6 separate regions of the Homo sapiens genome follow, and all the other regions are linked to region 1. Evidence: fine-mapped expression QTL. A gene starts in region 1. Each other region holds a variant in brackets. All regions are shown on one strand. Distances are between the middles of the regions.

Region 1 (4,087 bases):
TAAAGGCGCAATAAAAGATGAGAAGCTGAAGTGCTATCAACAAATAAGAAAAAAGTGATGACTAGAGAGGGGTAGTTGTACTTGGTTGGAGAGTACAAGTATGGCTCAAAAGTATTCCTATAGAAATCCCTTTAAATGTTGCCTTTTGCTAGGGTGTGGGTAAGGACACTCACAGATTGTTGGTAGGAGTGCAAAACAGCATATCCTTTCCAGAGGGAAATTGAGCAATTCACATTAAAAAAAAAAAAACCCTTATGTGCATACTCTGCCCAATAATTCTATCATCTAGGAATGTACACTTAGAAAGTAATCATGGGCCGGGCGCGGTGGCTCACACCTGTAATCCCAGCACTTTGCGAGGCCGAGGCGGGCAGATCGCTGGAGGTCAGGAGTTTGAGACCAGCCTGGCAAATATGGTGAAACCCCATCTCTACTAAAAATACAAAAATTAGCCGGGCATGGTGGCACACGCCTGTAGTCCCAGCTACTCGGGAGGCTGACACAGGGGAATCACTTGAACCCAGGAGGTGGAGGTTGCAGTGAGCCGAGATCGTGCCACTACACTCCAGCCTGGGCGACAGAGTGAGATTCGAAAGTAATCATAGATATGCGGACTTTTACATTTACCCAACAATGTATTTTAATAGGGAAGAACTGAGAATGACCAATGAAATAAATTATAATATTACAGCCATATAATGGCATGCTATCTAGTCAGAAAAAGATAATTACAAAAGAGAATTCACTTTAGAAAAACTCATGTATTAAGCTCTGCATAGAAAAAGACTGGAGGTGTATAACCACATTCACAATGGTTACTTGGAATGGGGAAACCATATTCACCATGGTTACTTGGAACTTGGAATAGTGAAACAACGTATCTTCATTGTGATTTCTATCTTAGAAATGTGTATAAATGGCTAAATGTTCCTATATATAAAAATGTTTCTAATAAGACGTTTTAAAGGTTTCTTGGGGGTGACTGAAACAGCTGTGATTTCAAAATAAAATTTTAGTAGCCATTTAAAAAAAACATTAAAAATAAAACATTGCTATACCATTACCATTAAAATACCAATGAAAAATAAAGTCCTCGTTATGAATCTGCAGCAAAACCTTTCTTTTCAAATTCTGCTCTGTCGTTTGGACCTGTTCACATTCAGAAAAATGCTAAAAAGGCTGCCTGGCGAGGAGCCTAAAGAGGCCTTCCTGATTTCTACCTGCAGTTTGTAATTTGTTCCAGGAAAAAAAAAAAAAAAAAAAAAGGCAATCACCTAATAGGTAGTTCGAAAAGCACCTGAGTAGGAAAATATTTACGGGGTAGGTTTCTCTCCCATTTCTTTCCCTCGAGACCTACCAACAGGACAGTCCTGACAGCGACTGGCCCAGTTTCCCAATACAACCCAGAGAAGCACAGGAGATGCGCCAATTTTCAGGAGACGCTTCTAAAAAGACAAGTTTTACTTTACAATGCAGGATAATGAGCAGCCTTCACTACTCATTCTCGACGTTAACAGAGGAAGATGCCGCTGCGCGGCAGGAGCGCCTCACCAGGACAAAGCGGGGTACGGGGGGGTCCTCGGTTCAGGCCCCGCAGGCGACGCGTCCAGGGCCGCCTCGAGGACAAGGGCACCGTCCCCGGACACCGCCTTCCCGGCCCCCGCCCTCTTAACAGATGCAGGGAACCGCGGGGACCGCAACCTGCCCGACGACGGCGGAGGATCAGGGTCGCGGCAGCAGGTGCCCGGGTCGCCGTGCCTGTCGAGGGACCTCAGGGGCGCCGGGCAGCTGTCCCCTGGAAACCCGCGCCGGGTCGCCGCGCCCAAGGGAAGGCGCTGACCGAGGGACCTACGGGGCGCAGAGGAGCTGTCCCAACAGAACCCGAGTCGGACCGCCGCATCCTCCCCGCTGCCCCATCCGCCACCCCGAGAACCGCCCCTCCTGGGTGGCGGACACGCCCTCCCTGCGGGCCCAGGCCTCCTCGCCCCGCCTCCCCCCGAGCCGCTCACCCGGCCGGGAAGCCCCCGCCGCCGCCGCCGCCGCCGCCGCCGCCGCCGCCGCCGCCGCCGCCGCCGGCCCCTCGGGCCTCGCCCCTCACTCTGCCGCCGCCTCCCACAGCAGCGACACCCCAGCCACCTCTGCCGGGCCGCGGGACCCGGAACCACTTCCTTCCGGAACCGCCTCGCCCCGCCCCCACCCCGGCCCCGCCCACTGCTCGCGGCCTCGCACTGGGCCCGTTCTCCAGCCGACCCCTATCCTCTACTCTCCCGGCGAGGGTGCCCCGCCCGGGCTTCTCGGACCAGAGCGCTGCGCCCCCTGCCGGCCGTTCCCACTGCGGCCGCTCTGTCCAGGGCGCCTGCGCCCTCTGCCACCCGCCCGCCGGGTCCGGCTAGAGCGCCTGCGCCCTCTGCCGCCCTCTCGCCGGAAAGGAGGGGACCTAATGGGCGTTCCAGGTCCAGGGATCCTGGGGGTTAAGGCCCAGGGATTGGAGGTCACCCCTCAGTCATGGGCAGAACTTGATCCCGTGGGCCTTCCAGCTTTGTGCAGATCTCTAACCATTCACCTACCCTCTATCCATTTCCCACTCCTCAAATTAAGCATATTCCCGGAAAACAAAGCCTCCCCTCTGGACTTCCCAAATGGTCGGATGGTACCAACATCTATCCGTCATCCAATTCAAAAGATTGCCTCATCTCTGTCTACTCGCTTGGTTTCTCCCCTCCCACACTCCATGCACCAGCCTCAAAGGTAGTGTGTCTTCTTCACTCTTGAAGCTTTCCGCTTGACACTGATATTCTTTCTTCCCCTTGTGAAATAGCTCTTTCAGGCTCTGTGCCATCTGGTAGTAACACCTTTTGCCCTCCCTTGTCACTGTCACCTACTGACTGTCTGGCATTAGTTTTCCTCTCCATCTGATTTACTGCCATCCTCCCAATGAATCCAACATCCACAACCCAGCCTGGTTTCCTTCAGTTCCTCAATCCGAATGACCTTTACTTCTACTTTGTTCACCCGTAGTCTAGAAAATCTAGATATTCATCACTTGATACTGCTCCATCTCTAAAACCTTAAATGTTGAAATCCCACTACCCAACTTAAACCCATAGCCTTTGACTACAACCACTTTTTTATTTTTACTTATTTATTTATTTTGAGACAGAATCTCTGTCACCCATGCTGGAGTGCAGTGGTGTGATCTCGGTTCACTGCAACCTCTGCCTCCCGGGTTCAAGTGATTCTCCTGCCTCAGCCTCCTGAGTAGCTGGGATTACAGGCTGCGCCACCATGCCCGGCTAATTTTTTTTTTTTTTTTAGTAGAGACAGGGTTTCCCCATGTCGGCCAGGCTGGTCTCGAACTCCTGACCTCAGGTGATCCTCCCGCCTCAGCCTCCCAGAGTGCTGAGATTACAGGCGTGAGCCACAGCGCACGGCCTATTTATTTATTTAGAGATAGAGTCTGGCTCTTGTCACCCAGGCTGGAGTGCAGTGGTGCGATCTCGGCTCACTGCAACCTCTGCCTCCCAGGTTCAAGTGATCCTCCTGCCTCAGCCTCCTGAGTAGCTGGGATTACAGGTGTGCGCCACCATGCCCGGCTAATTTTTGTATTTTTAGTAGAGACGGGGTTTCACCATGTTGGCCAGGCTGGTCTCAAACTCCTGATCTCAAGTGATCCGCCTGTCTCAGCCTCTCAAAGTGCTGGGATGACAGGCATGAGCCACCGCGTCCCGGCCTTTTTTTGTTGTTTTTTTTTTTAAGAGTCAGGGGTCTCACTTGGTCGTGGTCCTGGCTGGAGTACAGTGGCATAATCATAGCTCACTGTAACCTCAAACTCCTGGGCTCAAGTGACACTCCTGCCTCAGCCTCTAGAGTAGCTGTTGCAACAGACGTGCACCACCATGCCCAGCTAATTAAAAAAAAAATTTTTTTTTGTAGAGACAGGGTTTCGCCATGTTGCCCAGGCTGTTCTGGAACTTCTAGGCTCAAGTGATCCTGCTGCCTCGGCCTCCCTAAGTGTTGGGATTACAGGCAGGAGCCACTGTGCCCAGCCTTCAACCACTCTTGTAAGCAGAGCCCCCTGCTTTGCCCT
Region 2 (4,108 bases), 50 kb before region 1:
GGATTACAGGTGCACGCCATCACACCCCGCTAATTTTTTCTATTTTTAGTAGACACGGGGTTTCACCATGTTGGCCAGCCTGGTCTTGAACTCCTGACCTCAAGTAATCCATCCACCTTGGCCTCCCAAAGTGCTGGGATTATAGGCGTGAGCCACCGTGCCCAGCCAGGAATATTGAAGTACATGTGGTTCCTGGCACAAAGCAATCTCTCCTGCTTCTACACCTTTGCATGTGCAGTTCCTTCTGTGACCATTTCCTTCTACTTAGATTAACTTAAAGATTTAGATCCATTTGTACCTCTTCAAGGAAGAGTTTCCTAAACCCTTCTGAGGTGAACTAGGTACTCCCTGCTATGTGCCCATGTAGCATTTTTAGGTCTTAACACCTATCATTCCGTATTTGTAACTACTGGTGTACCTGTCTGTTTAACGGAACAAGTTGCTATTCCTTCAGAGGAAGCAATGTGGATGATTCGTTTTGTGGCCCCAGCTCTGATCCCAGAATCTGACATGAAATAGACACTCGGGGTTTTTTAAATGTTAAAAAGGCCTATGCTTTGTCAAAATGCTCACGACAGTAGATCAAAAGAGTAAAGTGCAAAGTTGTATATTGAGGATAATTTCAATTATTTAAAATATACACATATGTGCCCAGAAAAAATAAATGACAAGAAATGTACTAAATATTAACAGTGGTCATCTCTGACTGGTAAAATTAGGAATGCCTTATATTTTTGATTTTATACTTTATTATATTTTTCCAAATGATTACCATTAGTGTGTATGACTACTTCTACAAACAAAGCAATGGATTTTTTAAAATTCTCTTTGCAAAGCATATATCTGATGAGGGAGCTGTATCCAGAATATATAAAGAACTCCTACACCTCAACAACAAAAATACTTTGATTTTAAAATGGGCAAAGGATTTGAATAGAAATTTCTCCAAAGACATACCAATGGCCAATAAGCACATAGAAAGATGCTCAACATCATTAGTCATTAGAGAAATGCAAATCAAAACCACAATGAGACACCACTTTACACTAACTAGGATGGCTATAACCAAAAAGATGACAATACCAATATGCATAACATCACTATTTACAATAGCCAAAGGGTGAAAGCAATACAAATGTCCACAGAAAAACAGATAAACAAAATGTAGTACAGCCATACAATGGAATATTATTCAGCCTTAAAAGAGAATGAATTTTTTAAAAAAGGAATGAAATTCTGACACATGATACAACATGAATTGACCCTGAAAACACTATGCTAAGTGAAATAAGCCAGAGACAAAACGACAAATATTGTCTGATTCTACTTATATCAGATACCCACAATAGGCAAATTCATATAGACAGAAAGAATAGAGGTTACCAGGGGCTGCAGAGAGGAGAGCATGAGGAGTTACTGTTCAATGGAAACAGACTTTCTGTTTGTGAAGATGAAAAAGTTCTGGAAGTAGATAGTGGTGGTGATTGTACAACACTGTGAATATACTCAATGTCAATGAATTTTACACTTAAAAATGGTTAAAATGGTAAATTTAGGATATGTATATTTTGCCACAATACAAAAATTAAATCCTTTGATATTTGATTTTTGACCAGGCAAATGAATGCTCAGATTAAAGAATCTATTTCCCAGCTGCCCTGCAGCTAGGCATGGCCATGGGACTAAATTTTGGCCAAGTTATCATGTGTAAATTTCAAGAAGTCTTTATTTTTTATTTATTTATTTATTTTTTTTTTTTTATTATACTTTAAGTTTTAGGGTACATGTGCACATTGTGCAGGTTAGTTACATATGTATACATGTGCCATGCTGGTGCGCTGCACCCACTAACTCATCATCTAGCATTAGGTATATCTCCCAATGCTATCCCTCCCCTAACCCCACCACAGACCCCAGAGTGTGATATTCCCCTTCATGTGTCCATGTGATCTCATTGTTCAATTCCCACCTATGAGTGAGAATATGCGGTGTTTGGTTTTTTGTTCTTGCGATAATTTACTGAGAATGATGATTTCCAATTTCATCCATGT[C/T]CCTACAAAGAACATGAACTCATCATTTTTTATGGCTGCATAGTATTCCATGGTGTATATGTGCCACATTTTCTTAATCCAGTCTATCATTGTTGGACATTTGGGTTGGTTCCAAGTCTTTGCTATTGTGAATAATGCCGCAATAAACATACGTGTGCATGTGTCTTTATAGCAGCATGATTTATAGTCCTTTGGGTATATACCCAGTAATGGGTTGGCTGGGTCAAATGGTATTTCTAGTTCTAGATCCCTGAGGAATTGCCACACTGACTTCCACTATGGTTGAACTAGTTTACAGTCCCACCAACAGTGTAAAAGTGTTCCTATTTCTCCACATCCTCTCCAGCACCTGTTGTTTCCTGACTTTTTAATGATTGCCATTCTAACTGGTGTGATATGATATCTCATAGTGGTTTTGATTTGCATTTCTCTGATGGCCAGTGATGATGAGCATTTTTTCATGTGTTTTTTGGCTGCATAAATGTCTTCTTTTGAGAAGTGTCTATTCATGTCCTTTGCCCACTTTTTGATGGGGTTGTTTGTTTTTTTCTTGTAAATTTGTTTGAGTTCATTGTAGATTCTGGATATTAGCCCTTTGTCAGATGAGTAGGTTGCGAAAACTTTCTCCCATGTTGTAGGTTGCCTGTTCACTCTGATGGTAGTTTCTTTTGCTGTGCAGAAGCTCTTTAGTTTAATTAGATCCCATTTGTCAATTTTGGCTTTTGTTGCCATTGCTTTTGGTGTTTTGGACATAAAGTCCTTGCCCATGCCTATGTCCTGAATGGTAATGCCTAGGTTATCTTCTAGGGTTTTTATGGTTTTAGGTCTAACGTTTAAATCTTTAATCCATCTTGAATTGATTTTTGTATAAGGTATAAGGAAGGGATCCAGTTTCAGCTTTCTCCATATGGCTAGCCAGTTTTCCCAGCACCATTTATTAAATAGGGAATCCTTTCCCCATTGCTTGTTTTTCTCGGGTTTGTCAAAGATCAGATAGTTGTAGATATGTGGCGTTATTTCTGAGGGCTCTGTTCTGTTCCATTGATCTGTATCTCTGTTTTGGTACCAGTACCATGCTGTTTTGGTTACTGTAGCCTTGTAGTATAGTTTGAAGTCAGGTAGTGTGATGCCTCCAGCTTTGTTCTTTTAGCTTAGGATTGACTTGGCCATGCGGGCTCTTTTTTGGTTCCATATGAACTTTAAAGTAGTTTTTTCCAATTCTGTGAAGAAAGTCATTGGTAGCTTGATGGGGATGGCATTGAATCTGTAAATTACCTTGGGCAGTATGGCCATTTTCACGATATTGATTCTTCCTACCCATGAGCATGGAATGTTCTTCCATTTGTTTGTATCCTCTTTTATTTCCTTGAGCAGTGGTTTGTAGTTCTCCTTGAAGAGGTCCTTCACATCCCTTGTAAGTTGGATTCCTAGGTATTTTATTCTCTTTGAAGCAATTGTGAATGGGAGTTCACTCATGATTTGGCTCTCTGTTTGTATGTTGCTGGTGTATAAGAATGCTTGTGATTTTTGTACATTGATTTTGTATCCTGAGACTTTGCTGAAGTTGCTTATCAGCTTAAGGAGATTTTGGGCTGAGACAATGGGGTTTTCTAGATATACAATCATGTCGTCTGCAAACAGGGACAATTTGACTTCCTCTTTTCCTAATTGAATACCCTTTATTTCCTTCTCCTGCCTGATTGCCCTGGCCAGAACTTCCAACACTATGTTGAATAGGAGTGGTGAGAGAGGGCATCCCTGTCTTGTGCCAGTTTTCAAAGGGAATGCTTCCAGTTTTTGCCCATTCAGTATGATATTGGCTGTGGGTTTGTCATAGATAGCTCTTATTATTTTGAAATACGTCCCATCAATACCCAATTTATTGAGAGTTTTTAGCATGAAGGGTTGTTGAATTTTGTCAAAGGCTTTTTCTGCATCTATTGAGATAATCATGTGGTTTTTGTCTTTGGCTCTGTTTATATGCTGGATTACATTTATTGATTTGCGTATATTGAACCAGCCTTGCATCCCAGGGATGAAGCCCACTTGATCATGGT
Region 3 (4,108 bases), 42 kb before region 1:
CTTCAGTTCTTCAAAGCCCTTCGTGATTGGCCTCATCTACTCTCTCCCTTTACCACCCTGTCACAACCCCACTGTCCCCCTTTCTATTCCTTAAACAAAAGCAGGCATGCTGAAGGTCTTTGCTTTTGCTGTTCCCTCTCTTGAAATACTATCCCCTCAGATAACCCTATGGCTAACACCCTCACTTAATTCACAACCCAGCTACATTTTTTAAAAGTCATAAGTGTACTCCATGATCACCCTAAATAAAACCATATCACACATGTCACTCTTTGCTATTAAATTTCCTCTTCTGCCTTATTTTCACCTATCACTCCACTGACATGTATTTATTTTCTTTCTTCTGCTATTAAATTATAAGTAACACGAAGACAAAGGTTTGTATATAGTTTTTCACTATATCCCCAGTCCTTAGAACAGTAACTAGAACAAAGAAATCAATACATAAATATCTGTTGACTATATGAATATATCTTTATAAAGTTCACTCTACTTCAGTATAGATTATGACTACTGCAATAGCAAGAACAAAAACTGATGTTTTCCCGTAACCTGCCCAGCTAAAACGACAGTCTGTCGTTCCAACTCCTTGTTAAAAAATAAAAATAAAAAATAAAAGAAATTCTTGGCAGTTTGATGTCCTCTTCAAGTCCACTGATACTATTTTTAAGCTACTTTATCAAACACACTCCATACCTCTATAACAAAACAACTCATTTACATTGTAGGAAACTTAGTAACTCCAGTTAGAAAAGGCAGAAATAGTGTGTCAGGAGAAAACATGGAGACATCAGAGTAAGAAACGGGTAAGAAGTGGAAGTAAATCCAGACCGTCCCCAACTTACAATGGTTTAACTTACAGTTTTTTTTTTTTACTTTACAATGGGTTATTGGGATGTTGCCCTATCATAAGTTAAGGAGCACCTGTAGAGAACAGATGGGTCCTAGAGGCTAGACAGAACCCCCAAGTGTTAGGTGTGCTTGTGAAAGATCCTAAGGCATCAGGGAATAGTAACCCAAATCTAAATGTATTACAAGTTAGGTATCCTCTGTCTTGTCTACTCCTTTGGGAACTCTTCATTCATTCAACAAATATGAACTGAGCTCAGGGCAGTGGGGATACAACAGTGAGCAAACACAGACAGAAAGGCTGCATACAACTTTTTGAAGGAAAGCCACACAGGTGAGAAATCACTACATCCTATGACTTATGATTGCATCATGTTTCATTTCTTTCGTATTTCTGTGGAAACTACCCTGACTTGATTTTAAAAGTTTATATAAAAACATATAATGAGGTCAATTTTTATAAACTGAATTTCTAAGATAAAAGGATAATATATTTTTCTTATTTAAATAAGGAAACTGAATTAGGATAAAGTGAGAGATTAATAAGAAGAGTTGGCAACGATGTGGAGCAACTGGACCCTTCAGATGCTGCTGGTGGAAATGTAAAATAGCACAGCCGCTTTGGAAAACAGTCTGGCAGTTCCTCAAAAAGTTAATCATAGAGTAACCATCAAACTCATCAATTCCACTCCTAGCTATATACTGAAGAGAAACGAAAACAGGTATCTGCACAAAAACTTGCACACAAATGTTCACAGCACAGTTATTCACAAACAGACAAAAAGTGGAAACAACCCAAATGTCCATCAACTGGTGAATGGATAAAGAGAATACGATATAGCCATACAATGGAATATTATTCAGCCATACATAAGAATTCTCATGCTACAACATGGATGAGCGTTAAAAGCATTATGCTATAGGAAAGAAGTCAGTTACGAGAGGCCACATATTATATTATTGAATTTATATGAAATGTCAGGCCAGTTGTGGTGGCTCATGCCTGTACTCCCAGCACTTTGGGAGACTGAGTCGGGTAGATCCCTTGAGCACAAGAGTTTGAGACCAGCCTGGGCAACATGGTGAAACCCCGTCTCTACAAAAAAAAAATACGAAAAATTAGCCGGGTGTGGTGGCAGGAGCCTGTGGTCCCAGCTGCTCGGGAGGCCGAGGTGGGAGAATCACCTGAGCCTCACGGAAGGTTGAGGCTGCAGTGAGCTGTGATTGTGCCTCTGTACTCCATCCTGGGTGACAGAGAGAGATCCTGTCTCAAAAAAAAAAAAAGAAAAGAAAAATGATTATATGAAATGTCAGGATTAGACAAATCCATAGATACAGAAAATAGAACAGTAGTTGCCAGGGACTAAGGGGGAAGGAGAAATGGGGCAGGGAGTGGCAGCTAATGGGTAGAGGGTTTACTT[C/T]TGGGGTGATGAAATGTTTCGGAATTAGATAGTAATGATGGTTGCATAAGTTTGTTAATATACTAAAAACTACTGAATTGTTTATTTTTGCAGGATGAATGTTAAGTAATGTCTCATTTTTAAAAACTCCTCATGGCTCCACTATGCCTCACCACCTATCCAATACAAATAAAATAATCCAACAGACCCAGCAAAAGACAGCTTGTAGGAACACATCCTTGCACACTACCACACTGTCCTCAAAGCTAGCATTCATAATACTTAATGCTGACCAGCTACTCTACCTTACACTCATCACTTTACTTAATCTTAACCACCACTGTGAGGTAAGTACAACTCTTATCCCTATTTTACAGATGAGGAAACAGAGACAAAATAATTTTCCCAAAGTCAGTCACATAGCTAGGAATCCAAGAGCCAGCCACTGAACTCAGGTCCAACTCCAGTGCTCAAGTTCTTAATCACGTCAAGGGGTAAAGATACATCCTAAAGCATCTTATGATCTTTAAAATATGCTGATTGTCTTAAATCTGTTTTTAAAATCCTGTTTCTTGGTACTGGGTTTCTTACACTTGTTGAGTCAAGAAAAGCATGATAGAGAGCTTGTGTCATTAAGGAGCACAGTCATGTCATGCATTAACCATATCATATTAGGAGACTGGAGACTTTCACCCAGCAAGGGACAACATTTTTACTCTTTCATTTTCAATTGTTTTATATACCTCAACACATCGTTTCACTATGTTTTAATTAGTTCTGAATTTATTGTCAGCATCAAGTCCATATATTCTGACCTAGTTAGCTACAGACTTGACTTAAAAGTCTTGTCAAATACATTATCTTAGCAATTTGATAGAAAAGATTATGGAAAAACAATTAGCACTGTCTCTTTGTATTCATACAGTCTCACTTTTTGGGAGATCCAAGTAGTATAAGAACTCAAGTGAACTGGAAATGTTGTCCTGTTCAATTATACCTCATAATCATATGGGGCCCCAGAGTTGCCGTGAGTTCCATCCACATGGTGTTCAGAACTAGAGATAAACTGGGGTTGATCTAGACTACTAAGAGCCCCTAAACAGAAGTATGAGGTTAAGAAAGAAAAATCTACTGAGGATCTATTTGCCATATATGACATAAGTACTTCACATGTGCCAACTCGTTTAATACTCATAACTGCCCCATAGCATAAATTGATTTTATCATCATTTTACAGATGAAGAGGCTCCAGAGACTAAGCAAATTTGTCCAAGATCGGTCAGCTTGTAAACTGAGAGAGATGAGATTCAAACTTAGGTCTCCTCTGCATTTTCTACTACACCTGCCTCAATTTCATGGACGACATCCAAAAATGTGGATTTTTTTCACTTTTTGTCAGTACAGTGATCCACAATTATCCAGTATAGACATCCACAAAGAGTCGCAAAAGATAACTGTACTGACTTCAGGAAATTTTCTACTATTCAAAGACTAACCCAGAATCTAAAGGGCAGAATGTATCAGAGTTTCAATCAGCTCAAGCTAAATAGTCTGTAAACTTGCTGGTCCTGCCTCCTGCTAATATTCTAAAAGTGGTAACACTCCTCATCAGAATTACGAAGACCTCAAATATTCACCTACCCCATAGTTTTTGTTGTTTAAATCAAACCGCATATGAGAATCACTGAATAACCTGGAAACATTTTAATAGATTTCACTTAAACATATAAGATGGATTTGAAGGAGCAAATCCCTATATTAAAATGAAAATTATCATCACACAAAAAATGTAAAAATATGGTAAAACCCAAAGCTCCCTGATAACAGGATGTTTGTCATCTACTGATTACCTCTCTGCA
Region 4 (4,000 bases), 82 kb before region 1:
TACTTTAGATGTATTATGGGATTGAGCAAATGATTAAATCGTTTGATGTTGGGAGCCAGGGTTCTCACTGTGGAGGAAGGGACATACAAATATCAAACAGGAGAAGGCAAGGAAGAATCCTATGGAGATGGATGGTAGGTGCCAGTGTGACCTCATCATTTCTAAAATATGTATATATATGCATGTATGTGTGTGTGTGTGTTTCCTAGATATGGCTGCTGAAAATGCTTATAAGCAAAGACACTCCAGTAGCAATGGGCACTAGGGCCCAAGTCTTGGACTCTAATACCATCCCCCACTAAAAGGAACCAGGACTCCTTAGAAAAATGAATGATTTCAAGCCTGGGGCAGGGAATGTCCAAGATAAAGACCAAAACATTTTGTTATGCATCAGAGCAAAGAAGTGCTAAAAAGAAATGATAGGTGCATATCACAATTTGCAATTGCAAAAATATGGAACCAGCTCAAATGCCCATCAGTCAACGAGTGGATGAAGAAAATGTGGTACACACACACACACACACACACACACACACACACACACAATGGAATACTACTGAGTCATAAAAAGGAATGAAATAACGAAAAAGGAATGAAATAATGGCATTCGTAGCAACCTGGATGGAATTGGAGACTTTTTTTTTTTGAGACAGAGTCTCACTCTGTCACCCAGGCTGGAGTGCAGTGGTGTGATCTCACCTCACTGCAACCTCCACCTTCTGGGTTCCAGTGATCCTCCTGCCTCAGCTTCCCAAGTAGCTGGGATTACAGGCATGAGCCACCACGCCCAGCTAATTTTTTTTTTTTTTTTTTGTATTTTTAGTAGAGACGGTGTTTCTCCATGTTGTCCAGGATGGTCTCGAACTCCTGGCCTCAGGTGATCCACCCACCTCAGCCTCCCAAAGTGCTGGGATTACAGGCATGAGCCACTGCACCTGGCTGGAGACTATTACTCTAAGTGAAGTAACTCAGGAATGGAAAACCAATATTGTATGTTCTTACTCATGCGTGGGAGCTAAGCTATGAGGATGCAAAGGCATAAGAATGATACAATGGACTTTGGGGACTTGAGGCAAAGGGTGGGGGGTGGCAAGGGATACTGTAGATTGGTTACAGTGTACACTGCTTGGTGATGGGTGCGCCAAAATCTCAGAAATCACCACTAAAGAACTTATTCACGTAACCAAACACCACCTGTTTCCCAAAAACCTACTGAAATAAAAAAGATAAAGTCAAAAAAGGAATGATAGGTCCATATCAAGAGGACACAGCAATCAGCTTAAAGGGGCTCCCACTGGCCAAAGCTAGGATCATTTGAGCTCCCAAATAATCAAGGACAATAATGAATTATAAGCCACTGAAAAAGTAGAAATGAATCCATATCAATAATAAATAGACAAATAAGCAGGGAAGAAGGGAGGAGTCTTGCTTACAGCAGAATGCCAATGCCAGCTGGTAAGTGTAGAGGGAGCACTGGAGTTAGAAAATCATCATTTTGCCACCATAGCCATGAAGATTGGTTTGGACCAAAATCATCAACATGCCTGGGCATGATGGCTCGCACCTGTAATCTCAGCACTTTGGGAGGCCAAGGTAGGAGGATTGCTTGAGGTCAGGAGTTCAAGACCAGCCTGGACAACATAAGGAGACCCCCCCACCGCCCCCCACCATCTCTTAAAAAAAAAAAAAGCCAGGTGCAGTGGCATGCACCTGTGGTCCCAACTACTCGGGAGGCTGATGTGGGAAGATCGTTTGAGCCCAGGAGGTTGAGATTGCAGTCAGCCATGATTGTGCCACTGCACTCCAGCCTGGGCAACAGACGGAGACTCTGTCT[CAA/C]AAAAAAAAAAAAAAAAGAAAAGAAAAGAAAAGAAAAGAAAGAAAGAATGGAGGCCCTCTTTAAAAACCAGAATGGTCTTCATTTTGGGTTTGTCTGATGATTCTTTATGATTATATTCAAGTGCTGCATTCCCAGCCAACATACCATATTAGTGATGCTGTGTTATCTATTGTTAGCAGTGGAGAATCCATATCCGTGTCACACGGCACCAAAATATCTTCCGGCAATGAACCTGTACGGGTCTGCAGCAACCTCAATTACTGCCTCCTCAGAAGAAAAAATTGGACTGAGAGGCATAAGGCAGAAGGAGAGATGGAGGCAAGTTTTAGAGCAGGAATGAAAGTTTATTTAAAAAGTTTAGAGCAGGAATGAAATGAAGTATACTTGGAAGAAAGCCAAGCAGTCGACCTGAAAAGCAAGTGCACGGTTTGACCTTTTGACTTGGGGTTTTATAGGTTGGCATACTTCTGGGGTCTTGCGTTACTCCTCCCAACTCCTGAGATCTTATCGGGAAGCTGCTGATCACCATTATTTTAGAGAGACAGTTAACCACCGCCTGACTATCACCTGATGGTTGCCTGACACTCCTGGTATGTGGGTCGGGGGAGCCCTCTCCTGCCCTGCTCATACCAGACTAGCTACCCACTGTAACAGTATCACACTGATGTCCATCTGCTCCTCCTTGGTGATGTTAATTTCCATCCCCTAGTCAAGGAGTTGTCTGTTCTTTCCACTGTATAATTGCTGTTTTTCCTTCCTGCCTTGCAATAAATAAGCGATCTGTGAGAAGACACTTTTACACATTGAAATGTCCTGCTCATCAAAATTGCCTCATATATTTAGTATCTATTGATGACTCTATTTTTTTTTTTTTTTTTTTGCCTTAAGTGATCTTCCTGCCTCAGCTTTCCTAAGTGCTGGGATTACAGGCATGAGCCACCATGCCTGGCCAAAATATATATATATTTAATTATCATGGATACATAATAGTTGTATATATTTGTAGGCAACATGTGATATTTTGATATAAGCATACAATGTGTAATGATCACATCAGGGTAATTGGGATATGCATCACCTTAAGCATTTATTATTTGTGTTAGAAACATTCCAGTTCCAGCTGGGTGCCGTGGCTCACGCCTGTAATCCCAGCACTTTGGGAGGCCAAGGCGGGTGGATCACTTGAGGTCAGGAGTTTGAGACCAGCCTGGCTAATATGGTGAAACTCCATCTCTACTAAAAATACAAAAATTAGCTGGGCATGGTGGTGCATGCCTGTAATCCCAGCTACTCCAACAGCTGAGGCAGGAGAATCACTGGAACCTGGAAGGCGGAGGTTGCAGTGAGCCAAGATTGCCACTGCACTCTAGCCTGGGCGACAAGGGGAGACTCCGTCTCAAAAAAAAAAAGAAAAGAAAAAAAAAAGAAACATTCCAGTTCCACTCTTTCCTTTTGAATGGATAAAGGAAACATGGTGCATATACACAATGGACTATTATTCAGCCATAAAAATAATGAAATCCTGTCATTTGCAACAACATGGATAGAAACTGGAGGACTTATGTGAAGTCAAATAAGCCAGGCACAGAAAGACAAATATCACATGGTCTCACTCATATGTGAGAGCTAAAAAAAAAACACACACACACAAAACCTGAATTCATGGAGCTAGAGTAGCATGGTTACGAGGCTGGGAAGGGTGGTGGGGAGGGGCGGGTAAGGAGGAGATGATTAATGGGTACAAAAATAGGTTGATACATGGAGTAAGACCTAGTGTTCCATAGCATAATAGGGTGACTATAATTCACCTCCAAGCCTCTTAGTGAAAAGGAAAATTACAAGACCTCTGTTCTCGAAATGCTAAGAATTTGAAGTGGAAAAAGGTGAACTAAAGTATTGGTAGAAATGCCCATACGGAAAAATAGGTAGAATGTGGATCAATGGCAGGGAGGGAAGAGGCTGGGGAGGTGAATGAATACGCCAAGGCTTGGGGTCAGAAGGAAGCCCACCGAGGGTGGCCAATGACACGTCTTCTCACATAGCACCTGGCCCAGAGCAGATGCACAGAGCCTGATGGTTCATCCCTGCATCTTCAGGAAACCATGAAACAAAGGTCTCCTGGGAGAGCTGCTGGGAGACAAGGTTGGGTAGTAGAAAACCTGA
Region 5 (4,108 bases), 52 kb after region 1:
ATAACCAAAGATGGGCAATACTAGCACAGAAAGGTTGCAATGAACTAAAAATAAAGAAAGAAAGAAAAGTAGGCTTTTAATTCAGTGATGTGCTATGGAAAGATTTTCCTTATGGAGGACAAACACATCAATGGCAGGTATTAGTAGTGTATCAAAACCATAGTGATCTCTAAAAAAAATTATTAATAGTAGTGAAAAAGTCTCTATTAGAAAGCAACACATTGGAAATTTAAGAGCTGATGTCATCTTTAAATATTTTTGACAAATTCGCAAGTTTTCATTAAACTTGTGTTTATCCAACATTCTCTGAACTAAACTGATACACTGAATAAGGTTTATATGATTCTCTCCATATAAAAACTTTCCTATATTCCCAAATTAAATCATATTTCTCTTTCTTTCTCTGTCCTACTAAAGATGGTTTCCACTGTCCTACTGGACTGAGTTATTTACTGAGTCTTTTGTCAGTTACTGTCAGTAAAATATTTTAATGACTTAAGACCTTGGTGGTCACAAAGTTATTGTAAATTTTTCAGTTACATGGTTTCCTTGGTGAGTTTACCTAGTTCCTAACAAAAATTAGGCATGGTGGTGTTATGGTGCATGGGCATAGTGGTCCCAGCTACTTGGGAGTCTGAGGCGGGGGGATCACTTGAGCCCAGGAGTTGGAGGCTATAGCGTGCTGTGATTATGCCTGTGAACAGTCACTGTACTCCAGGCCTGGGCAACCCAACAAGACCCCATTTCTTAAAAACACACACACATATATATTTGCTTCATTAAAATACTGTTGATCATGGCTGACAAGTTATTATTGTCTCTCTATTAAAGAGAGAGACAACAAGGTGGGGGAGAATGTCAGGAGGAGCCCAAGCCCAATGCAATCACTTAAATCCAAATGCAACTGGAAAAAGAATACCAGAAAAGCAGAATGGAATTCATGGACCTAAAGAGAAAATGCTGAATGCATCATCTTGGTAAATAAAAGCCCTGTTACGCACTGGGGTCCCTTAGCAAAGGATCTTTCACCCAGAAGATACACAGAGAGTCAAGCCACGTAACTCCAAGGCCAGCATTTCTCCCACTTACCACTTCTGGCTGGCCACGCCTCACGGGGGAGCAGGAGCTGCAACACTGGATGGCACAAAGCCCTAGCAAACTGACTCATGACAGTCAGACTGTCTGGCAAAGGGGAGAGATGCTTACTTGGATATCACAGGAGAAGATGGTCTCTTAGGAATGCCTCCAGAAAACTCACATCTTCTCAGAGGGGACCCGAAGTTCACAACAGGAAGAGAAGTTGCTGTTCGTTGCCCCCGCTTCACCTTCTCCACCTGTAGGGGACACAGGATAGCCACAGTCCATGACTGGCACTACTTCCACAATTTATAAGACTAATACCCCAGATGGAACAATGCACAGCTTTCTTTCAGAGGGATCGATATGAAGCTATAACGCTTCACATGACAGGCATCTTTGCGGGGAGGCAGGATGAGGTCATCACATTTGCATTATCCAGTTAAAAAAAATCAGCCTCAAAATGCAAAGATTTCCTTCTCCTTGTTGTCTTTCAAAGAGTTAACAACTGAACCATATTACGGTCTTAGACATATAGGAACTGAAAAGAGTATAAAAATGTAAAAT[C/G]ACTACAAAAAAATTACAGGTGGGTGAAAATGTGGTTACAACATCCAAGACAGTGAGCTGTGGCCCCTGATGGTATACATGGTATAATGGGTCTGCAACCCCATCTAGTCCTGTAGGTCTTCCCATTACCTCCTTTGGCAGAAGGGAACAGACATCAGTGCCCAGCCTGCAGAAAGTGCTCCACAAGGGTTAGCTCCCTTCTCTCCCTATCACACTTTTCTGCAGCAAGTCCTCAATTGGCCCCCACACTCACATCCATCAATCCCTTTCAACACTAATCCACTGTATAGTAAAATCCGAGAGTCTAAAACATGCACTTCTAAGAGCCACAACAGATTTGAAAAGAAAATATGGCATTATAAAATGAAGTAGTTTTGAAATAAGTCCTGACATTATTTGATATTCCTCCCTTCGACAGGTGAGGCTTAATTCCTCTCCTCTTGAGTGTGGGTTGATCTTAGTGACTTACTTAAAGGACACTGCAGCTTCCCGATAGCTTGCTTGGAGGGAAGCCAGCTGTGGCATCATTTGGATACTCAAGCAGCTTTATGGACAGGCCCATGCAGTGAGGAACCGAGGCCTCCTGCCAACAGCCATGAATGAGCCGTCTCAGATGAGGCCCAGCCATGCTTTCAGATGATGCAGCCCTGGCCAACATCTTGACCACACCTCATGAAAGACCTTGTACCAGAACCACTAAGTCACTCTGAATTTCTGACCCAAAGAACCCATGAATTAATAGATATTTGTTATTTTAAGCTGCCAAGGTTTGAGGTGATTTGTTAAGTAGCAATCAATAACTAACAAAAGTAGTATGGCACTGTGTAATTTCTAAATAAATAGACACAATTGGGGGTGCCTTCTCAACATTTAATTTACTGATAGTGCCAGTATGCCATCAAAAATGTTTAAGCTTGGCATAGTAACATGTGCCTGTAGTCCCAGCTACTCAGGAGGCTGAGGCAGGAGGATTACTTGAGCCTAGGAATTCAAGGTCAGCCTGGGCAACATAAAAAGACTTCATCTCAAAAGAATATTTAATGATTACTTTTGTAGGTAAAAGTTGACGTAGATCCTCAGTTCCACTTAGATGCACGGGCAAGACTGACCCAGAATCAGATATCCGTAACGAGGAAGACAGAGGATATTTAGAACATTCCTTCTGACTCCTGTCCTCTGGAGGGCAGGCTGTGACAAGGACATCATTAAGAATTTGCTCCAAGGTACTAAGACTTAAGAGGGTGCAAAAAGTTAAATGATTTTCAAAGGTTGGGTAAAATTTTGAACTAAATCTACCCTTTCCTGCTTTGAGCAGTCCCAGGAGATTGATGGAAACAGACAGCCCAGGTCAAGCACAGAAGTAATCACACCATCAGACAGAACACAGTCTAGAGGAGTGAGTGGGTGGGTGGTTTTAAACCTACCAGAGAGGCCTCTCCTCCTGAAAGGGCTTCTTTCCCAACATCTCCTGCACCAGATGTAGACGTAGATGTAGCTTTCTTCTTCTCAATGTTTCGAGTGGGTGAAGACTTGTAAGAAGGGTTAAGAGGGCCAAGAGGAGCTAAACGAGGACAGACATGGAATACTAGAAAGTTACAGTATAACAGCCAGAAGGACAGAGAGTACAGATGGAAAAAGTAGAGCAGAGAGTTGGGAAGAACACATTTCTGTTAAAATATGACCTGGGCAATCAATATCATACTTTTCTATTGTACACAGGATGGATCTTACCCTAAAAAGGCTCCCATACTCAAGAGTCAAGTTTATTCAAGTTTATTTCAGGGGTTAAAAGTCTGTACTTTGGAGCCACAGAGACCTAGCACTGCCACCTAATAGCTGGATCACCTTGGGCAGGTTACTTAACCTCTCTAAACATCGATTTCCTTGTGCACAAAAGGGTTAACATAGCAGATCTGACTGCTGTGCTTGGAAAGGCCTGCTTATAAGGGTGGCCCTTGGCTGGCATCTGAGAACTTAGATTTCAGGAGGGTTCCCACCATTAACTGATGGGTGTCTAAACTGTTTATACAAACAGTATGGTTTATGCTAAGCATCTGCTTTTCTTGTGGGAGTGTGGAATCTGGGTATGTGCCTGGGAGGGGATGCCTACATATCTAGCCCCCAGTAAAAACCCTGGGCACTGAGTTTCTAGCCAACTTCCCAGCCTGGCAACATTTCATACATGTTGTCACAATGTGTTGGTAGAGGAATTAAGCTCGTCCCATGTGACTCCACTGGAAGAAGACTCTTGGAAATCCACACCTGGTTACTTCTGAACTTAGTCCCATGCACCTCCTCCATTTGCTAGTTTTTTCATGTTTCCTCCTGCTATAATAAATCATAGCCATGGGCCGGGCATGGTGGCTCACCTGAGCTTAGGAGGTTGAGACCAGCCTTGGCAACATGGTGAAACCACAGCCCTTCAAAAAATACAAAAATTAGCTTGGCATGGGGGCACACTCCT
Region 6 (4,108 bases), 93 kb before region 1:
AAATTGATTGTGTTGATGGTTCCACAACTCTGTGAATATACTAAAAACTGTTGAATTATACATTTTAAAATGGGTGAATTGCCAGGCACAGTGGCTCACACCTATAATCCTAGCACTTTGGGAGGCCGAGACGGGTGGATTGCCTGAGGTCAGGAGTTTGAGACCAGTCTGGCCAACATGGTGAAACCCTGTCTCTACCAAAAATACAAAAATTAGCTGGGCATGGTGGTGTGCGCCTGTAGTCCCAGCTACTCGGGAGGCTGAGGCAGAAGAATCACTTGAACCCAGGAGGCAGAGGTTGCAGCAAGCCGAGATTGCACCACTGCACTCCAGCCAGGCAAAAGAGCGAGACTCCGTCTCAAAAAAAAAAAAAAAAAAAGTTAATTATGTGATATGCAAATTATATCTCAATAAAAGCTGTTAAAGATTTTAAAAGAGTGATCATGGTTACAGCATTTCAGTATGGGAAGATGCAAATGTTCTGGAGATGGATGGTTGTGATGGTCGCACAACAATGTGAATGTATTTAATGCCACTGAACTGTACATTAATAAATGGTTAAAATGGCAAATTTTGTTATGTATATTTTAGTACCAAAAGAGAATGAATACATATGTGATTGGTGGGTTATATGGGGCTGGGTGGGGACGATATTCCCTGTGTTTTAACTCCTCCAATAATACCCCCACACTGCTTCCCAAACAGGAAATCAGAATTACAATAACCACCACCCCATCACCTCGGGGTTCAGAGAAACCAAGACCAGTGGCCTGAGCTGACGGTGAAACGCCACAGCCATCCCCTAGATTGTGAAGGCCCCAAAGCAGACAGCCAACCTCAGATGCATCCTCAAGCCCGAGGCTATGGGACTTAATTGAAAAGTCTCTGAACCAGGCGGTCACTTAATAAGAGATGGCACAACCCTTTTCTAGCACGACTTCTTATTAAATAGAGTCAGTCAAATCAAGTTCCTCTTCTCAAAAATAATTACAGACCAGCCAGAGGCAAAAGTGGGAAGTAAGTCAAGTTCATCTTCTTTGTTTTGCTTGCCAGCCCTGGGTTAAGGATTCTATTCCCCAGCTGAAGTTTTCTTTTCTGGACCACAGAAGCTCTCAAAGTGTGGTCCCCAGCCCAGCAGCAGCAGCATGTGGGAACCTGTTAGAGATGCACGCTGGGGACCCCGCCCCAGGCCTTCCGGGTCAGGAACTCTGGGGCTGGGACCCAGTAACCTGTGTTTTGATCAGCAGCTCAAGTGTGAGAATCCCCGCTGTACCTCAACTCCTCAGAGCCAAGGTGAACGCTCTGTCATCTGATGAACTGCTTGGTCCTTGGCAATGAAAACGGGCTCAAGGGAGCTACCAGTGAGGCATAGCCCTGAACTGGTAAAACTGACTTGATGTTTTGCGATATATATTCATATCATTATCATTAGAAAAGTAATCTCTGCTCAGTATTTTAAAAAATAAAACAGGCCAGGCACAGTGGCTCATGCCTGCAATCCAAGCACTTTGGGAGACTGAGGCAGGAGGATTGCTTAAGCCTAGGAGTTTAAGACCAGCCAGGACAACATAGTGAGATCCCATCTCTACAAAAATAAAATAATAAAAAATCAGCCAAGCATGGTGGCACGCACCTGCAGTCCCAGCTACTCGGGAGGCTGAGGTGGGAGGACTGCTTGCGCCTAGGAGGTCGAGGCTGCAGTGAACCATGATCACATCACTGTCCTCCAGCTTGAGTGACAGAACAAGACCCTGTCCCAAAAATAAACTAAACTAAAATAAAATATTAAGGATACAGTGTATAAGGTGAAAATCTTCCATCATCTCACAATTACCAATTACTGCAGAGATAATTGATAATCACTGTTAACTCTTGAAGGAATATTCTTCCAGACATTTTTTAAAGTGTGTAATGATACTAAGATATATGATGATTTCCACCTATTATCACTGTAATTTTTTGGAGCTAGTAATTCCTCTTTAGTGCTCTAATGATGGAAATTGAGAACACTGAAGAGGGGGTACTATTTTCCCTGGAGGACTCTCAAATCACCTTTTTCTTTTTTCCTAAATTTGAATGCATTTCATAATCTTCTTCTGGGAAGAAATTAGAATTCCTGAAAAAATGCTAAAGCAATTCTCTGATACTCTTTAATGAGATTAAGCCCTTGTCGGGGAGACTGCTCCCTCCACCCCCTGCCCCC[G/C]TCTCAGCTGACCTAAGGTCAGAAGTCTAGTGATGTTTAGCCAGACATTCTTTCACCTTGTGTCCAGTCTGACAATGATCATCTAACCATTCACTTCCCAGAAAATGTCCCAACCAAGGGGGAATAAGAGGGAATCTTGGGGCTGGGTGCGGTAGCTCATGCCTGTAACCTCAGCACTTTGGGAGGCCAAGGCGGGTAGATCCCCTGAGGTCAGGGGTTCAAGACCAACCTGGCCAACACGGCGAATCCCTGTATCTACTAAAAATACAAAAAAACTAGCCAGGCATGGTGGTGGGCACCTGTAATCCCAGCTACTTGGGAGGCTGAGGCAGGAGAATTGCTTGAACCCGGGAGGCGGAGGTTGCAGTGAGCTGAGATCGTGCTACTGCACTCCAGCCTGGGCGATAGAGACTCTGTCTCAAGAAAAGAAAAAAAAAAAAAGGGGGGGAATCTTGAAACAAAACTTTGACTTTGACATGTGTTCATAATTAAATTTTCTGAAAAGTTTTATATACGCCTCAGTCTTTCATAACTATAAACAACACACACAAAAACTATCAGATATGGACTAGACCTTTTCTCAGTGCCTGAATAAAGGAATGAAAAGGTTTGACCTGCCACAAAATAGTGTTATGGGTCTTTTGAAAGTCTCTCTGGGCAAAAAGGATAATCTTAAGATAACAATCGCTACCATTTATGGAGGAGGGGGCTGCGATACTCTTATCTGCTTTTAAATTCTCACAACAGTGTCAGTTATATGTTAGTATTAACATTGTACAAGGGAAGGAACTCAGGTTCCGAGAGGCTAAATGTCATGCCCAATCAATGTTCTTTAGCAGGAGAGAGCAGGCTTGGGAATGTAAAGTCAGCTGTGTCTGATTCCATTAGAAATGATGACATCGTCTGAAATTGGACAAAACAGCTCATTTGTTTTCATGGTTTAGAACTCTATTCAATGGTCTTAATATAAAATGTCAATGGATCTTCGTGAGTGTTTTGCTTGGTATGAAATCTGTATACACATAAAATGCTCATGGTATAACACTAAGTGATAAAACGGCTACACACACATCCCCAGTTGCTTTTTTTTGTTTGTTTGTTTGAGACAAGGTCTCACTCTGTCACCCAGACTGGAGTACAGTGGTATGATCTTGGCTCACTGCAACCTCTGCCTCCCGATTTCAAGCAATTCTCCCGCCTCAGCCTGCCAAGTAGCTGGGATTATAGGCGCATGCCACTACCGCCCGGCTAATTTTTGTGTTTTTAGTAGAGACAGGGTTTCACCATGTTGGCCAGGTTGGTCTTGAACTCCTGACCTCAAATGATCCACCTGCCTTAGCCGCCCAAAGTGCTGGGATTACAGGCATGAGCCGCCCGCCCCCCAGTTGCCTTTTTTTTTTTTTTTTGAGACGGAGTCTCACTCTGTCGCCCAGGTTGGAGTGCAATGGCGTGATCTCGGCTCACTACAACCTCCTCCTCTCAGGTTCACGCCATTCTCCTGCCTCAGCCTCCCCAGTAGCTGGGACTACAGGTGCCCGCCACCAGGCCTGGCTAATTTTTTTATTTTTACTTTTAGTAGAGACGGGGTTTCACTGTGTTACCCAGAATGGTCTCGATCTCCTGACCTCATAATCGGCCCACCTCAGCCTCCCACAATGCTGGGATGACAGGTGTGAGCCACCGCGCCCAGCTCCCAGTTGCCTTTTAACTTAAAAAATACATTAAAAGCTTTGCAAGCAAATACTCCAAAAGGTTAAAAGGTCATCCTAAAGCCATGCGGCTGTTGTTGATCCGTTTTCCTTCTATTTTCTGAGCCAGCAGAGCATAGAGGTGTCTATGCCACCAGCCTGGGCATGATGAGTTTAGGCTTCACCTGGTACTAGCTGCTGTGCAACCTTGGTAGGT

Direction of the effects. Alleles are on the strand shown, and positions count from the first base shown. SD is a standard deviation of normalised expression in the study named. Not every link is listed here.
As copies of C replace T in region 3, the expression in lung of the gene that starts at base 2,163 in region 1 goes up (moderate effect, 0.55 SD a copy in GTEx).
For the expression in prefrontal cortex of the gene that starts at base 2,163 in region 1, allele C in region 4 goes with a lower level than allele CAA (small effect, 0.29 SD a copy in CommonMind).

The links. PIP is the estimated chance that this variant, and not a neighbour inherited with it, causes the effect.
Region 2: its variant is the best candidate, but not a certain one, in a credible set for the expression of BCLAF3 in monocytes (TOPMed, PIP 0.74).
Region 3: its variant is the best candidate, but not a certain one, in a credible set for the expression of BCLAF3 in lung (GTEx, PIP 0.86).
Region 4: its variant is the best candidate, but not a certain one, in a credible set for the expression of BCLAF3 in prefrontal cortex (CommonMind, PIP 0.76).
Region 5: its variant is the best candidate, but not a certain one, in a credible set for the expression of BCLAF3 in whole blood (TOPMed, PIP 0.89).
Region 6: its variant is the best candidate, but not a certain one, in a credible set for the expression of BCLAF3 in esophagus muscle (GTEx, PIP 0.79).

What each region holds. Positions count from the first base shown.
Region 1 is chrX:19,988,899-19,992,985 of GRCh38, forward strand. BCLAF3 (BCLAF1 and THRAP3 family member 3) reads right to left here and starts at 2,163. Exons shown (of 12, transcript NM_001367774.2): 1 at 2,010-2,163. It overlaps LOC729609 (a long non-coding RNA gene), which reads right to left and starts at 881. Exons shown (of 2, transcript NR_024440.1): 1 at 788-881. RefSeq lists silencers at 1,546-1,915, 1,986-2,035, 2,076-2,505.
Region 2 is chrX:19,938,530-19,942,637 of GRCh38, forward strand. All of the region lies in intron 8 of BCLAF3 (BCLAF1 and THRAP3 family member 3), which reads right to left. Among named protein-coding and RNA genes, the nearest start is that of BCLAF3, 50 kb to the right of the region's middle. The variant C/T (reference allele first, on the strand shown) is at 2,052.
Region 3 is chrX:19,946,654-19,950,761 of GRCh38, forward strand. It overlaps BCLAF3 (BCLAF1 and THRAP3 family member 3), which reads right to left. Exons shown (of 12, transcript NM_001367774.2): 8 at 4,100-4,108. Among named protein-coding and RNA genes, the nearest start is that of BCLAF3, 42 kb to the right of the region's middle. The variant C/T (reference allele first, on the strand shown) is at 2,271.
Region 4 is chrX:19,906,514-19,910,513 of GRCh38, forward strand. No RefSeq gene overlaps it. Among named protein-coding and RNA genes, the nearest start is that of SH3KBP1, 21 kb to the left of the region's middle. The variant CAA/C (reference allele first, on the strand shown) is at 1,835.
Region 5 is chrX:20,041,296-20,045,403 of GRCh38, forward strand. It overlaps MAP7D2 (MAP7 domain containing 2), which reads right to left. Exons shown (of 17, transcript NM_001168465.2): 7 at 3,069-3,229; 8 at 1,207-1,334. Among named protein-coding and RNA genes, the nearest start is that of MIR23C, 26 kb to the left of the region's middle. The variant C/G (reference allele first, on the strand shown) is at 1,645.
Region 6 is chrX:19,896,332-19,900,439 of GRCh38, forward strand. No RefSeq gene overlaps it. Among named protein-coding and RNA genes, the nearest start is that of SH3KBP1, 11 kb to the left of the region's middle. The variant G/C (reference allele first, on the strand shown) is at 2,204.